2 separate regions of the Homo sapiens genome follow, and region 2 is linked to region 1. Evidence: fine-mapped expression QTL. A gene starts in region 1. The other region holds a variant in brackets. All regions are shown on one strand. Distances are from middle to middle.

Region 1 (8,325 bases):
CCTTTGTGTTGTCCCAGATAAGAGTGAGTAGAGGAGCTTCAGAATGTTTTAAGGATTTAGAGCCAGCTGAGATTTCCTGAGGACACTGAGGTGGGGAGGAGGGAGGGGTGGGGGAGGGGCAAATTCAGACCTAATCTGTCTCATCTAGGGAGGAAAACAGTAACTGCAGCAATAAAAAAATATATATTTATAAATCCTTGTTTTTAAATAAGAAATGAGTAACACTGATGGCTTCTTCTTAGAGGACACTGGGTGGCTTACGGGACAAACACGGAAGGGAGACTTTTCACTATATATACCCTTTGAAGTTTTTAAAATTTTGAAATTTGAACCATGTGAATGGTTTATCTATTCAAAAGTAAGTCATGGAAACTTTATTTTAAGCATGTTCAAAGTTTTCTGACAACCCTAAGAAAGAGGCAGAGCAAAGACCATTAGTCCCATTTCACAGATGAGGAAGCCTGAGGCTCCAAGGAGAAAAAAAATGAATTGCCCAAGTCTGTGGCAGGGTTGAAGCAAGACTCAGAACTTCAGACTCCTAGTCCAGTGCTCTCTGTCAGAGACTCCACAGTATGCAAGATAAGCAGCACTCAGATTCACTTTATAAGTCCAGTTCTCATAGCTACAGTCAAATGCATCCACAAGAACACTGGAAATGATCACCATATACAAAGCCTTACTGACTCGTACAGCAGTGTCTCTGAGCCGTTTGGGTATATCTACACGTTTTGGTTAATAATAAACCAAACACCCTAAAACTCTTTAACTGTCAACCCCAATCTTTCTAAAATGCCCCATTCCACATTCTTCTCTCAGTGAATGCAATGGCCACAACTGCATTTTTATTAGATCCATTCACTTTCAGAATCTCACGGTCATCTTTATGAACTCAGAGCAAATCAGAAGGGTGGTCAAGTAAAAATGAAGACTGGGCTTAGGAGCCAGCCAAACCCTTGGTTTTGCCACAGAGTTGTAAGTGACCTTGGCCTCAGCTTTCTCTCTATAAAGGAACCAATTAACAGGCACATATTGGACACCATGTGTTTGACACTGGCCCACTGGATCCCTGTGTCTTCAAGGAGCTTACCTTCTATAGGGGCAGACAGAAAAAAACAGTTAATTTGAAGCTGTGGTAAGTGTTATGACCAGATACAATAGAGTTACAGAATAGAGGACCTGGGAGATCAGGCAAGGCCTCTCTGAAGATGTGGCATTTGCGTTGGGACCTGAATGATGAAGTAGCAGTTACGTGGGGATCTAGAGGCAGAGTATGATGGGCACGGGAAGAGATGCAAAGGTCCTGAGGCAGGGGTAAGCCCACCATGTTGAAGGGCTAGTGAAGCTGGAGAGCAGGCAGTGAAGGGTAGAGATGGGCCTCTGTCTGCCTCTCCAACTTTGTCTCCTTCCAGAGGTCCATCTCTTTGGGGAAGGTGTTTGGAGGTTATTCTGGTTGTAATGGGAAGTGGCTACAGAAATAAAGTAATTTGATTAAATCTGTGATTCTCAAATGTTTCGGTTTTTTTAGCAGGAGAATTCTTTAGTCAAATAACAAGAATTTCAACCTACAACTAGATAAAGGTATTGCTCTGACTGGTTGGGAAGCTAGTTAAAGCCCTTCTGACCCTCTCTCTGACCTCTTGGCTTTTCTCCTTACCTTTCAGTACCTCCAAGCTCACAGGAGCTAGAAAACCACCAGGTGATCCATCTCTAAGCTTCCTGAAGCTCTAATAAAACCCAGCATCATTGTAAAGAATCACAGGGAAAGCTTTAGGATATAAGACTGGATGCTTGCTGGACAAGCATCTCGGGCTTCCCAAGACAGGCCCTGAGAAGGTTTATTTTATTTTATTCTAAATAGATACCACGTCTCACTATGCTGGCCAGGCTCATCTCGAACTCTTGACATCCAGCAATCTTCCTGCCTCGGCCTCCCAAAGTGCTGGGATTGCAGGCATGAGCCACTGCACCCGGCCCCTGGAAAGGTTTTACACTGAATCCCTGATGTGCACTTGCTTTCCACAGAAAAAACAACAATAAGCTCTGGTTCATCAAGGCTTTCAGTTAAAATCACACTGCTGAAACTACAGAGACAAAAAACAGATCGGGGGTTGCCACAGGATGAGGTGAAAGGAACTGACTACAGAAGAACAAAAGAACTTTCTGGGTTGGTGGAAAAATTCTCCATCTTGATAGTGATGTGGCTGCTTGTCTGTGTAAGTTTGAGAAGTTCATAGACCTGTAACACCTCAAGTGGTGAAGGTTTACCGTGTGTAAATTAGACCTCAAAAAACTTGACTTAAAATCACATTGCCAAAAGACTACTCAGAGGCACTTTACAGATGGAGGAGGGAAAATGGCTTGCTCCTGCTGCGGCAGCGGACCCCAGGAAGCCTGACTCGAAGGACAGTGTTCCCTCAAGTTCACGGCTGCCCAGCTTTAATTTGGAGCCTCTGCAGTGAGTTAGACTTCAGGTTTTCCTGCCGGCAAAATGAGGTGGTAAACAATTGCCAGAGGCTTCCCCACCACAGACAACGGGATTCTGAAAAGCTGTCCACTATGGGGGAGAAATCTGCTTTGGAGTCAGAAAAACTGGGAAAAATATTCCCACCTCTATCACTTCTTAGCTGTGTGCCCAGGCTCCATCCTGTGTGAGCGGGGGTAAGAATTCCCTCCAGTCAGCAGAGAATGCACCTGTAACCCAGCTGATTCCCAACAGCCTCTCAAGAAGGTCAGCGGCTATAACTTGGAGAGGTGTTTACCACAGCTACACAGCTCTTCTGCTCCCTGGGCCCCGGGCTGCTTCCTAGGAAGGACAATCTGGAGGCAACCATAAGGAAAGAAAATAACGAACTGCCTGGCCCTGCATTGCATAACCCGTGCGCAGTAAACCAGGAGCTCTGCTGGGACACAGTCTGTTATCTCAACAGGTAAACAGGAACCCTGCCCCCTCCCTGACCACCGTCAGCACTGGGCCACCACAGACACTCCAGACACAGACCGATAGCACATGAGGAGGACACCACTGCTCTTTAGCCTGTATTTTCACACTCCCATTTCCCTGCAGCTGCTGGCATCATCACTGGGCACACTCAATAACGGACACTCCACCCACTCCAGCCCTTCCCTGGCTACCTGCTCCAAAAGGGTGGTCCCGAGTGACTCAAAGCTGCCTTCTGCACCTTGCTCTTTTCCATCCACGGAGACCAAAACACAGACCCCAGAAGACGATTAAAATATAATAATAATAAAACCCCTCAGGCAGGAGTTTCTGCTTCCCCGTCACATCTACTGAGAGGCACTGTGGACACATAAAGACTGTTGACTTACTTTTTTCTCCACCTTGGGGCAGGAGGGAGGCAACACCCAGAAATTATCCCAATTTTATAGAAACAAAGACAAAGAGCTACATATCCTAGCCAAAGGCAACAAGGAGCAGGCCTAGAGCCACCCGGAGAGGCAGAGCCCAGCAGCAGCAAGGCTCCAGTGACTCCCATCTCCCTGGCAGAGATCGTCCCAGCCCTGTGCCCTGAGGGTGTCCTGAAGATCATGGGGGCTCGAAACCATGAAAGCAAGCAAAGATTTCTGTACAGTGCGGTTCAGAAAAGTTACTGAGTGCCTTCAGCCCAGGATCTCCTGGTTGATTAGGGAGTACTAACACCTAGGTTAAGAAACTCTGATTTCATTCATCACAAATATTTATCAAACCACTGCCAGGACATTGTGGCAACCACATCCTGCTGTTTTTATTCGGAGCCATTGCCAAAGCTTGGTTCTCTCCCCCACCTTCCGGTATCTGTGAAGTTTTCAGTTTCTATCAAACTCCAGCTGGGGGAGGGAACCGGGGCTGGCCCTAGTCGAGTAAAGTTCCACCACCAGGTCCACAAAGAGACTGCAGGGAGGCGTGGCCAGGCCGGAAATTCTGACAAAAAGTTTTGGCCCTCTGGTCCTAAAAGCAACTACTTCCTGATCGCTCCTAGTCCTGGGGTGGGGATGCAGTTCTCTGGCTGAGTGCCCCGCCGGTGGGCTGAGCTGGGGGCTGCCATCGCGGTGGATGGAGGTGGGGGGTCTGATCTCCGCACTCCAAGGCGCTCCGCTAGTACCTGGAACAGGGGAGTCTAACCCCCTGCCTTCCAATGGCTAAAGTTATTTTGGAGCACAGTCCCCTCCTAGGGTGTGAGCTCCGGAGGGCAGGGCCGCCTCCTCCACACTCCCTCGCCCCCCCCCCCCCCAGCAACCCACGGCCGGCGCTTTGAGGACTTGAACCCGGCCCAGACCCCGGGGCCCAGGCCTGCTCCGACCCGAGGAAGGAAAAAGGGGAAGCCAAAGGAAACTTCAGATGGACGCGGGGTGCGCTCGCCGCGGCCAGGGGCTCCGCTGCCCCCGCCCCACCCTCCGAGGGAGCGCCTTCCAGGGGCCCTGGCCGGCCTCCCACCTTGACCCGCTTGCCCTGGATCTCCAGCGTCTTCATGGTGAAGTCGACGCCGATGGTGCTTCCCTGGCGCTCCGAGAAGGCGCCGGTCTTGAAGCGCTGCACCACGCACGTCTTGCCCACGCTTGCGTCGCCCACCAGCACCAGCTTGAACAGGAAATCGTACTGCTCGTCCGGGTCCCCCGGGCCTGGGCCCGGCCCTGCCATGGCCTAGAAGAAGCCGAAGGGCCGGCGCTCTGGACGCTGGGACCGGCCTGAGCTCACGCAAGCCGCGGGCCGAGCTCCGCCCGCTCCAGCCCACGGGCCGCCTGGCTACGTGGAGCCGCCGCAACACCTGAACCCCCAGCACTGCCGACCGCCTGCCTCGGCCTCGGCCCCGCCCCACCCCGGCTGGCTCCCGCCCCGGCCCGGCTCGGCCCCGCCCGGACCCGGTGCCCCGCGGGTTCGGCTCCCCCCCGGACCCGCCAAGCCGGGCCCTCCGCAAAGCTCCGGCCGGTCCTCAGCTCCGTGCCACACCAGTCTGGCCTGTAGGCCCGCCCCAGCCCGCCCCCGCCCGCCCCCGGCTCCGCCCTCAGGCTGGCACCCACTCCGCCCCCAGCCCAACCCTCGGGCCCACCTCAGCCCGACCCGGGTTCCGCCTACGTCCCCGCCCCCGACTCCGCCCTCAGCTCCGACCTCGACTCCGCCCCCAGGCCCACCTCAGCGCGCCCCGACTCCGACCCGACTCTGCCCTCAGCCCGACCTCGACTCCGCCCACAGGACCACCTCAGCCCGCCCCGACTCCGCCCTCAGCCCGAACTCGACTCCGTCCCCAGCTCCGACCTCGACTCTGCCTTCAGGCCCACCTCAGCCCTCCCCGACTCCGCCTTCAGCCCGACCTCGACTCCGCCCTCAGGCCCACCTCAGCACACCGCCCCGACTCCGCCCACAGGCCCACCTCAGCCCGCCCCGACTCCGCCCTCAGGCTCACCTCAGCTCTGACTCCGCCCCACCCGACTCCGCCCTCAGCCCCGACCCCAGCCCGACCCCGCCCTCAGCACCTCGGCCCCTCCTCCATCAACACCCCGGCGCGCCCACACCGCGGATCCGTCTGGCCCCCAAACCGCTGCCCACCCCGACCCTTCATCAGCTGGGACCCCCAGGTGCTGTCCCGCGCCTCCTGCTCGCCCCCCACCCAGGCCTGGTCCGCCTGCCCGGGATCCCCTACCTGCTGCCTCCCAGACCGCCGGTCAGGGACAGGCGGAGACCATGGCTGGAGCTCCGGGCCTGCAGGCCTAGACTAAGAATGACCCCCTCCGGAATGGATCACGGAGGAAGGGGACGACCACAGCAGTGTCACCTGAGTGCCCACTCTGACAGGCGGGCAGTGCAGTCTCCGAGAGTGGTGGGGGTCGCTCTTCCCAGGGGCGGAAGGGAAGGGAGGGAGCAGGCTGCAGAAGGCCAGAATCCAGGCTGGCTACAAAACTGCGGAGGAGCCCAAAATCCTTGTGAGGAGAGGACCCAGGGCCCCATTTGATGGGAAGCTAGGCCAGAAGGAGGAGCTGGGAGCTCTTGTCTCCAAAAGGCAGCCTAGCAGTGGTTGAAGCAGCTGCTAAACGGCTGGATGACCCAGCTCAGAGCAGCTACAGGCCCATTTGGGAAACTGACCCAGCCAAAAAGCACCAGTCTAGGAAGAGGAACAGAAAAACTTGAAGGGATTTCTGAGGAAGGGCAGACCAACTCCTGAGTTGGCCCAGTGAACCAGGGCGCCTCAGAGAAAGGAGACCCAAACATCTGTAAGAAGCTTATACTAGATCCAACAGGACTGGGCTTCCCAGCTCCGAAGATGGGAAGGAATTGACAGCACCCCTTACCCCTCTAGACAGCTTCCTTGTGGCACTCCAATTCCAGGTATTCAACATATTTAATGAATGGCTACTACAGGCGGGCATTGTCCTGGGGCCTTGTAATGCACCTGTGGACAAAGCAGACAAAAATCCAGGAGAAAAGGGGAAAGTCTTCAAGCTGAAGGAGACTTCGCAGAGAGCAAGTCCCCCAGTGCCACTGTGAGGACCCCAGCCAACCTTTCAGGTCAAGATAGAAAGGGACTGAATGAGCAGTCTGCAAAGGCAGACCCCGTGGAGAAGGCAGAAGAGTTGTTTCTTCTGAAAGTTTGAACTCCACTCCCATGGGAAATACCCAACAGAATCAGACAGGAAACCCCAAAGTGCCACTGAAAAGCAATTGAGAGCCCCACTTTGGTACACCTGATGGGAGCGGAGAGTTAGAGAGGCAGGAAATAACCTCCACTCCAGGGTAGAAGTAGACAGGAGATGGGATGGAAGGTTTCTGCATGCTGGGACTAGCTCAGGTCAAAGTCCAGAACTCCAGAAAACAAGGCCTGCCCCCAGCTCAGAGCAGCTACCACAGCACAAAATGGTGTGGAATCCAGGAGCCAGGATGAAGCGTAGGGGTAGACGGTGGTTGGATAGCTAACTGGCCTTTCCACTGCTCTAGCCTGGAACTGGTTGGGCTGGGGCAGGGGACATGTTGGTCTGAGTATAGATTTTGTCAGAAAACCCAGGCACCACTCCCTTGCCTTTGCGGGGTGATTCTAAAATTGGACTGTGGTAAGGGTTGCACAACTCCTCAAGTTTATTAAAATCATTAAAATGTAAACTTACAACCTGTGGGTTTTATGGTATGTAAATTATACCTCAATAAAGCTGTCTAATATCTGCATTTCCTCTTTTGGTGGTAAATTCCTGAGTAGCACAGTGGCATTTTATTTGAAATGGAATCATGCTAATTTGAAATGCAGCAATTAAAAAATATTTATGTTTCATTTAATACACCAAATTTGAAAAAATGTATATTGCACTTTTTTTTTTTTTGAGACGGAGTCTCGCTCTGTCACCCAGGCTGGAGTACAGTGGCGCGATCTCGGCTCACTGCAAGCTCCGCCTCCCGGATTCACGCCATTCTCCCGCCTCAGCCTCCCGAGTAGCTGGGACTACAGGCGCCCGCCACCATGCCCAGCTAATTTTTTGTATTTTTAGTAGAGACGGGGTTTCACCGTGTTAGCCAGGATGGTCTCGATCTCCTGACCTCATGATCCACCCACCTCGGCCTCCCAAAGTGCTGAGATTACAGTCGTGAACCACCGCACCCGGCCTATATTGCAAAATTTTTAAAATAGGTCAAGAATTTAGTTGCCGGGCACGGTGGCTCACGCCTGTAATCCCAGCACTTTGGGAGGCTAAGATGGGCGGATCACGAGGTCAGGAGATCGTGACCACCCTGGCTAACATGGTGAAACTCCGTCTCTACTAAAAATACAAAAAATTAGCCGGGTGTGTTGGCCGGCGCCTGTAGTCCCAGCTACTCAGAGGCTGAGGCAGGAGAATGGCGTGAACCCAGGAGGTGGAGCTTGCAGTGAGCCAACATGATGCCACTGCACTCCAGCCTGGGCGACAGAGCGAGACTCTGTCTCAAAAAAAAAAAAAAAAAAGAAAGAAAGAAAAAAAAATTGGTCAAGAATTTAACTTTTTTTTTGAGACAGAGTTTCACTCTTGTTGCCCAGGATGGAGTGCAATGGCCTGATCTTGGCTCACTGCAACCTCAAGCAATTCTCCTGCCTCAGCCTCCCCAGTAACTGGGATTACAGGCGTGTGCCACCACACCCAACTAATTTTCGTATTTTTAGTAGAGACAGTGTTTTGCTGTGTTGGCCAGGCTGGTCTTGAACTCCTGACCTCAGGTGACCCGCCCACCTCGGCCTCCCAAAGTGCTGGGATTACAGGCATGAGCCACCATGCCCGGCCAAGAAACATATTTATTTTATTTTATTTTTGAGACACAGTCTCACTCTGTTGCCCAGGCTGGAGTGCAGTGGCGCGATCTCTGCACACTGCAAC
Region 2 (8,325 bases), 50 kb before region 1:
CACATAGGCCCTTCTCTCTCCGTGGCTGCTGCGTAGTCTCTCTTGGTCTCTGTGTCCTCTGGCGCAATTGCTCCAGCATTCTCCTTTACAAACAAGCTGCCGTGTGCAGCCCTATGCACCTGTGCGGCTATTTCTCTAGGGCACTGGTCCTCAAAGCAGAGCTCCAGAGACCGCTGGGGAGAGGAGGTTCCCTGAAACTCTTTTAGAGAGGTCCACATATTCAAAACTATGTTCATACTGTAGGCCATTATCAGCCTTTTCCACTGTGGTTTTCTGAAATTAAAATCCCTCTTGAAATAAAAGAGAATTTTCCAGAGGCCACATGATTTGTGACATCACAGCAGTGTGTCTGCAGACACAGACACGGCATCCAGCTACCTCCTATTACGCCAGACGTTTAAAAGATTTGCAAAAAATATAGAATGGCACACTTCTCACTCTTTTGTTTTGGAACATATCTATTCTTTTTGAGACAGGGTCTCACTATGTTTCCCAAGCTGTACTCAAACTTCTGGGCTTAAGCAATCCTCTTGTCTCCAGAATTGGTGGGTTCTTGGTCTCACTGACTTCAAGAATGAAGCTGCGGACCCTCGCAGTGAGTGTTACAGTTCTTAAAGGCGGCACGTCTGGAGTTTGTTCCTTCTGATGTTTGGATGTGTTCGGAGTTTCTTCCTTCTGGTGAGGTCGTGGTCTCTTTGGCTCAGGAGTGAAGCTGCAGACCTTCGCGGTGAGTGTTACAGCTCATAAAGGTAGTGTGGCTCCAAAGAGCAAACAACAGCAAGATTTATTGCAAACAGCAAAAGAACAAACCTCCAACAGCGTGGAAGCGGACCAAACCAGTTTGCCACTGCTGGCTCGGGCAGCCTGCTTTTATTCTCTAATCTGGCCCCACCCACATCCTGCTGATTGGTCCATTTTACAGAGAGCTGATTGGTCCGTTTTGATAGGGTGCTGATTGGTGGGTTTACAATCCCTGAGCTAGACACAAAAGTTCTCCAAGTCCCCACCAGAGTAGCTAGATAGAGTGTGGACACAAAAGTTCTCCAAGTCACCACCAGAGTAGCTAGATACAGAGTGTCGATTGGGCATTCACAAACCCTGAGCTAGACACAGGGTGCTGACTGGTGTGTTTACAAACCTTGAGCTACAGAGTGCTGATTGGTGTATTTACAATCCCTTAGCTAAACATAAAGATTCTCCAAGTCCCCACCAGACTCAGGAGCCCAGCTGGCTTCACCCAGTGGATCCCGCACGGGGGCCCAGGTGGAGCTGCCTGCCAGTCCCGTGCCGTGCGCCCGCACTCCTCAGCCCTTGGGTGGTCAATGGGAACTGGGTGCCCTGGAGCAGGGGGCGGCCCTTGACGGGGAGGCTGGGGCCGCGCAGGAGCCCACTGGGGCCGGCGGGGAGTGGTTGAGGAGGGAAGGCTCAGGCATGGCGGGCTGCAGGTCCTGGGCCCTGCCCTGCGGGGAGGCAGTTAAGGCCCGGCGAGAAATCAAGCACAGCAGCTGCTGGCCCAGGTGCTAAGCCCCTCACTGCTCCGGACTCGCGGCTCCGAGAGCGGGGCCGCGGAGCCCACGCCCACCCGGAACTTGCGCTGGCCGGCAAGCGCGGCGCGCAGCCCCGGTTCCCGCCCCCGCCTCTCCCTCCACACCTCACCGCAAGCTGAGGGAGCCGGCTCCGGCCTTGGCCAGCCCAGAAAGGGGCTGGCCGGGGCTCCCATAGTGTAGCGGCGGGCTGAAGGGCTCCTCAAGCGCGGCCAGAGTGGGCACCAAGGCCGAGGAGGCGCCCAGAGCGAGCGAGGTCTGTGAGGGCTGCCAGCAGGCTGTCACCTCTCACCTCTGCCTCTGAAGTAGCTGGGACTACAGGCACACACCACTATGCCCAGCTTTGTTTTTATTAAAGTATTTTATTTTCATTAACATCCTTAAGCTTTATCATTATGATTGTAAACAAAGTGACACATTAAGTATGTTTAAACTGTCTCCCCTTATTTTCACACACTGTAACTATTGGTAGATATAACCCATAAAAAGCTCTCTATGGTGCTCCAGAATTTTTAAGAATGGGTCCTGAGAGCAAAAAGTTTGAAAACCACTGCTCTAGACTAAGAAGCCCATGGCTGGGCATTGAGGCTTGCATTGTCTGAATTCTGATACACAACAAGCTCTAAAACTTTGCTGTTTTGCCATTCTGTAGGAGGACATGCAATATGTATTTCCCAAATTCGTGTCCTTGCTCTGTGGCAGCTCATGGGCACCACCCTACACTAGCCTCTTGTGGGTTTGAGAAGTGAAGCCAGCTGGACTTCCTGGGTCAAGTGGGGACTTGGAGAACTTTTCTGTCTAGCTAAAGGATTGTAAATGCACCAATCAGCACTCTGTAAAAACGCACCCATCAGCGCTCTGGGTCTAGCTAAATGATTGTAAATGCACCAATCAGCACCCCATAAAAACAAAGGATTGTAAATGCACCAATCAGCACCCCATAAAAACAAAGGATTGTAAATGCACCAATCAGCACTCTGTAAAAATGCACCAATCAGCGCTCTGTGTCTAGCTAAAGGATGTAAACACACCAATCAGCACTCTGTAAAATGGACCAATCAGCACTCTGTAAAATGGACCGATCAGCAGGATGTGGGCAGGGACAAATAAGGGAATAAAAAGCTGGCCACCCCAGTCAGCAGTGACAACCTGCTCGGGTCCCCTTCCACACTGCAAACTTTGTTCTTTTGCTCTTCACAGTAAATCTTGCTGCTGCTCCCTCTTTGGGTCCGTGCCACCTTTAAGAGCTGTTAACACTCACCACCAAGGTCTGTGGCTTCATTCTTGAAGTCAGCACGACCAAGAACCCACTGGAAAGAACGAACTCCGGACACAGGCTGTGGGCCTGTTTTCTTCGTGCCTTCACAGACAGTACTGTCGCCAGCCAGCAAACCACCCTCCCCAAATTATTTCCTTCTGGTGAATTCCCAGAGGACTTCTCATGGGCTCAGAACGTCCCCATCCCTGAAAGCATGGAACAGCCTCGTGGTCACTCTGCTGGCATGGGGTGCTCACAGTTTTATCAAGTTTCCTTCTATTTTAGTAACTAAAAATGTTATGTCTGTCAAGGACATATTGCTGGCGGGGTCCCTGAAGGCTCAGAGTAAGCTTCCTGTGGGTTTTTCCACCTCCTGTGCCCTCCCCGCTGTGAGCTCTGCCCTTCTATCTGTTGCACATCCACCATGTGTCAGCTTGAGTG[C/A]CCACGTTCCATGTCATGAATTCTAATGTTTTCCTTTATAGCTAGTTTAGGGAAATTCTGAATTTGTTGTTCAGATGAGGAGCAAGCTGTGGAGAGGAAAAGATCACCAAGGGGTCACGTATGCAGGGGACATTTAAGTACCAAGCACTGCACCAAGTCCCTCACCCTTAGGAAGGTGTATAAACCTCAGAACTGTTACTGCAACACCAGGGTCTAGGTCTAGGTCCCGCTGCTCACTGCACAGAAAGCCAATAAGACAACAAGTATCGCCTGGGAAGAAGGCTTTAATTGTGTGCTGTAGTCAGAGATGGGAGATCAGTCTCAAATCCATCTCCCTGACGGACTAAAACTAGGGGTAATATAACAGAGAAGAAACGTAACCATGTGTGGGAAAACAGGAATTAGGGAGGTCAACAGGAAGCAGGTGGTCAGTTAGGCACTCATGATGGGTGAGAGGTCTAGCCTCTCATTGTGCAGATGATGTGGTGAGTTTCAACTCCTTGACACTATCTGGGAGGCCTGATAGTTGCTTTCCTAAGAGAGGAACTCAAATAAGACAAATGTAACTTTCTCAAGTTTTAAGACTGGGAGGATCAATTTCTATGTTTATTCAAAGAAACCATGAACATCAGTTCTGTGGGGCAGTTGGGCCGGCTTCAGAGCTACCTCTTGGTGTGGGCAGTGAACACCCTTCTCACCTCACCTTCCTCCTCTCCATTTTACAGATGGGGAAACTGAGGCACAGAAAGGTAAATAGCAGAGGTGAGATTTGGAGCCAAGCAGTCTGGCCCCGATGCCACTCTTGTAAGTCCTCTTCTCATGGTTGCTCACAGGCACTCAACTTAGGAACTGCTGGTCAACCCAAAAAAATCTGTATTAAGCATGGAAACAAAATTCACAGAAAGGATGCCTGATGGCCGCGTGGCGTTCTCAGATGAATACAGCTGCTTTGAGGCCAAGTGCTCTGCCTCTGCCCCCTACCTTCCTCCTTATTCACCCACCTGGGGTCTTTGATTCTTAAACTTTAGGGATTCTTGGAAACAAGCTAGGATGACAAATAGGCTATGGATTTGACCTTCTTAGTGATTAAGACACCACCGCGTGGCGCCCGCTGGAGTGGACCAGAATGTGTCCTCCACCAGACACGGCTTCTCAAAAGCTATAGGCGCAGCGATTCTGGGCGCTCTGCCTGTGAGTTAGCCCTGCTCAACAAGGAGCAGTAAAAACCAAGCAAACAAACGGGAGGCAGCAGCTGGTGGGGGTTTATTTTTTGACAATACCCTCACCCCCCAACACAGACACTGACCTTTGGGAAGGGATCTTGGGGCAGACCCCTGCTGGCCTACTGCCCCTCGTCTGGGGTCTCAGGCAGGTGCAGGCTGAGCAGACTTGGGCTCTAGAAACCAACCTTTCTGGAATTTTACGCTAGACCAGGGGTGTCCAATCTTTTAGCTTCCCTGCGCCACATTGGAAGAAGAATTGTCTTGGGCCACACATAAAATACACCAACACTAATTAGTAGGGGATTTTGAAAATGTTACTTAATATTAGATCGATGCACAAAAATCTATTGCATTTTTAGACAATTAGAAATTATAATTTTAGCTGGGTGTGGTGGCTCATGCCTGTAATCCCACCACTTTGGGGAGCCAAAGAGGGAGGATCGCTTGAGCCCTGGAGTTTAAGGCCAGCCTGGGCAACATAGCAAGACCCCATCTCTACAAAAAATAAAAATAAGAAAATTAGCTGGGTATGGTGGCACACACTTGTAGTGCCAGTTACTTGAGAAGCTGAGATGGAAGGATCACTTGAGCCCAAAAGGTGGAGGCTGCAGTGAGCTATGATCACAGCACTGCACTCCAGCCTGAGTGATAGAATGATTGTCTCTAAAAAAGAAAAAAAGAAAGAAAGAAATTGTAATTTAAAAATAGGATACAATAAAAGGCAGGTATACAATTGACTTTCAAGTTGGAAAAAATAAAATTTAATTTATATCTCACACCATAAACAGAAAAAAAAAATACACTAGCACTAATGATGGCTGATGAGCTAAAAAAAAATTGCAAAAATCCTCATAATGTTTTAAGAACGTTTACAAATTTGTGTTGGGCAGCATTCAAAGCCATCCTGGGGCACATGTTGGACAAGCTTGCCCTAGACCGAAGGAAAAGAGAAGACCGATACAACGGTGGCAAAATAGAAAATCCCTGTGGATTTCCCATGTTATAATAACAGGGAAGGAAAATGATCATAAAATGTATGTATTTATTTATTTTTATTTTTTTTTTTTGAGTCGGAGTCTCGCTCTGTCGCTCAGGCTGGAGTGCAGTGGTTTGATCTCGGCTCACTGCAAGCTCCGCCTCCTGGGTTCACGCCATTCTTCTGCCTCAGCCTCCCGAGTAGCTGGGATTATAGGCATGTGCCACAACGCCCGTCTAATTTTTTGTATATTTAGTAGAGACGCGGTTTCACCATGTTAGCCAGGATGGTCTCGATCTCCTGACCTCGTGATCCACCTGCCTCGGCCTCCCAAAGTGCTGGGATTACAGGCGTGAGCCACCGCGCCCAACCTACAAAATGTATTTAGTTAAAATCTCCTGTCGTCTCCTAGGCAGGGGGCAAAGCCCTGCTTTCTTTCCTGGAGTCCCATGGACACTGGGTCAGCACTGCCTGGACCCCTACCCAGCTGTGCAGGTGCTGTTTTACCCCTGCAAGGCTCTCGGTCAGGACCGAGCCTCCTCCTTCAGCTCTTGCCCAACTTCGTTGCACCAAGACAGAAGTTTATGAGCATGCCCAGAAGAGGAACCAATATGGCCTGGGGGCCCTAGAGTGGTCACATTCCAAGACAGAAAGTGGGTGGTGGCCACCAAGGCTGGAGGAGAGGGCACACGGGGAGTTTGGTGGGGACAGAGTTTCAGTTTGGGAAGACGGAAGCATTCTGAGATGGATGGTGTTCATGGTGGCACAGCAGTGTGAATGTGCTTAAGGTCCCTGCACTCTCCACTTTACGGATTTTATGGATGCTTAAAATTAGGAAAATTAGGAGTCTTTTGTAGTTTAAAAGTGTGATGATTGGCTTTTCTTGCTCTTGTGTGAGTGAGGTGTGCTTCTCTCAAAATACTATGTTCTCTCATAAATACTATGCCATGTATGGTTTGTTTTGGGGGTTTATTCTTGAGACAGGGTTTCGCTTTGCCGCCCAGGCCGATCTTGGCTCACTGCAGCCTCTGCGTCCTGGGTTCAAGCGATTCTTCTGCCCCCTGAGTAGCTGGGATTACAGGCATGCGCCACCTTGCCCAGCTAATTTTTGGATTTTTTTAGTAGAGATGGGGTTTTGCCATATTGACGAGGCTGGTCTTGAACTCCTGACCTCAAGTGATCCACCCGCCTTTGTCTCCCAAAGTGCTGGGATTACAGGCTTGAGCCACCATGCCCAGCCCATGCCATGTATGTTTTACCACAATACATAGTAATAATTTTGTTTTAAGTAATACAGCAATCTCTGTAAGCTCCTTTAGCCAAAGACAGTCACTATTAACACACAGTTAGTCTAAGCATCCCAGCTTTTCTCTTTTCTACCTCTGGAAAAGATACATTCCTAGAAAGTAAACACACCAGCGTGAAGTCACGGAGGGAACAATGGGGCTCGCCATTGCGGTATTTCCTTCTGGTGTCCTTCTCCGAACAGTTGTATATAGTTGAGATCATAACCACACAAATTATCTAGCCCAACTTTTTCCCTTCTTTAAAAAATGGAAATAGCTTTATTGATTTTCCTGGCTATATATAACTAATTCATGATCATAACCAAAAATTTTTCTCTAAAACTGCAAAAAAATTAGGAGCCTTTTGTAGTTTATAAGTGTGATGATTGGCTTTTCTCATTCTTGTGTGAGTGAGAACTTCTTTTCTCAAACCTTGTTATGATGTCAGCACATTACCTACCAGACATGAAAAATAATAATAAAAGGCCTAGGCCATGCGCGGTGGCTCACTCATGTAATCCCAACACTTTGGGAGGCTGAGACAGGCAGATCACGAGGTCAGGAGATCGAGACCATCCTGGCTAACATGGTGAAACCCTGTCTCTACTAAAAATAAACAAAATTAGCCTGGCGTGGTGGCGGGCGCCTGTAGTCCTAGCTACTCGGGAGGCTGAGGCAGGAGAATGGCGTGAACCCGGGAGGCGGAGTTTGCAGTGAGCCGAGGTGGCGCCACTGCACTCCAGCCTGGGTGACAGAGAGAGACTCCGTCTCAAAAAAAAAAAAAAAAAAAATAATAATAATAATAAAAGGCCTGAAATTGAAATCCAGCCCCCTCCAGAGACAGATTTCTTCCTAACTTTGACTGAATATCCTTCCAGGCTTTCTCCCCAAAATGTGTGTGTATATATACATATGTGGGTGGGTACGTGTGTATATACACACCCATATATTTAAATATATATTTACGATTATTTTATTTATGAGAGTAATTGAGAACATATTTTCATGGTTCATCTGTTTCTACTTAGTCAATTTTTTTTTTTGAGACTGAGTCTCACTCTGTCTCCCAGGCTGAGAGGCAGTGGTGCGATCTCAGCTCACTGCAACCTCGACCTTCTGGGCTCAAGCTAACCTCCCATCTCAGCCTCCCTGAGAAGCTGGGACTACAGGAGCACGCTACCATACCTGGCTAATATATTTTTGTAGAGACAGGATTTTGCCATGTTGGCCAGGCTGGTCTCGGACTCCTGAGCTCAAGTGATCCACCCACCTTGGCTTCCCAAAGTGCTGTGATTACAAGCGTGAGCCACCATGCCTGGCCTACTTAGTCATTTTTAATTTTATTGTATTCATTCATTTTATTTTTATTAATTCATCTTTTATTGAGGAACATTTAAGTTTGGGTGTGAAATTGCAATGATAAACAGCTATTCAGCTTATTTCACTTACTGGCATTTTCCAATCAATAGTAGAATTCCAATCACTACTTCAATCAAATCCTTCATGAAGATCATTTCTATGTCACTCCTTTTCTGGGATATCTAGGTTGTTTCCAAGTCCCCCCTGCCCCCACAAATGGCATTATGTCTTAGTTTGT

Evidence for each region. PIP is the estimated chance that this variant, and not a neighbour inherited with it, causes the effect.
Region 2: its variant is the best candidate, but not a certain one, in a credible set for the expression of RAB43 in whole blood (TOPMed, PIP 0.53).

What each region holds. Positions count from the first base shown.
Region 1 is chr3:129,116,854-129,125,178 of GRCh38, forward strand. RAB43 (RAB43, member RAS oncogene family) reads right to left here and starts at 4,951. Exons shown (of 3, transcript NM_198490.3): 1 at 4,433-4,951. The coding sequence starts at 4,636. All of the region lies in intron 11 of ISY1-RAB43 (ISY1-RAB43 readthrough), which reads right to left. RefSeq lists an enhancer at 3,035-3,980 and silencers at 4,761-4,940, 4,961-5,180.
Region 2 is chr3:129,067,009-129,075,333 of GRCh38, forward strand. It overlaps LOC124906368 (small nucleolar RNA U13), which reads left to right and starts at 7,087; the gene lies at 7,087-7,194. The variant C/A (reference allele first, on the strand shown) is at 3,244.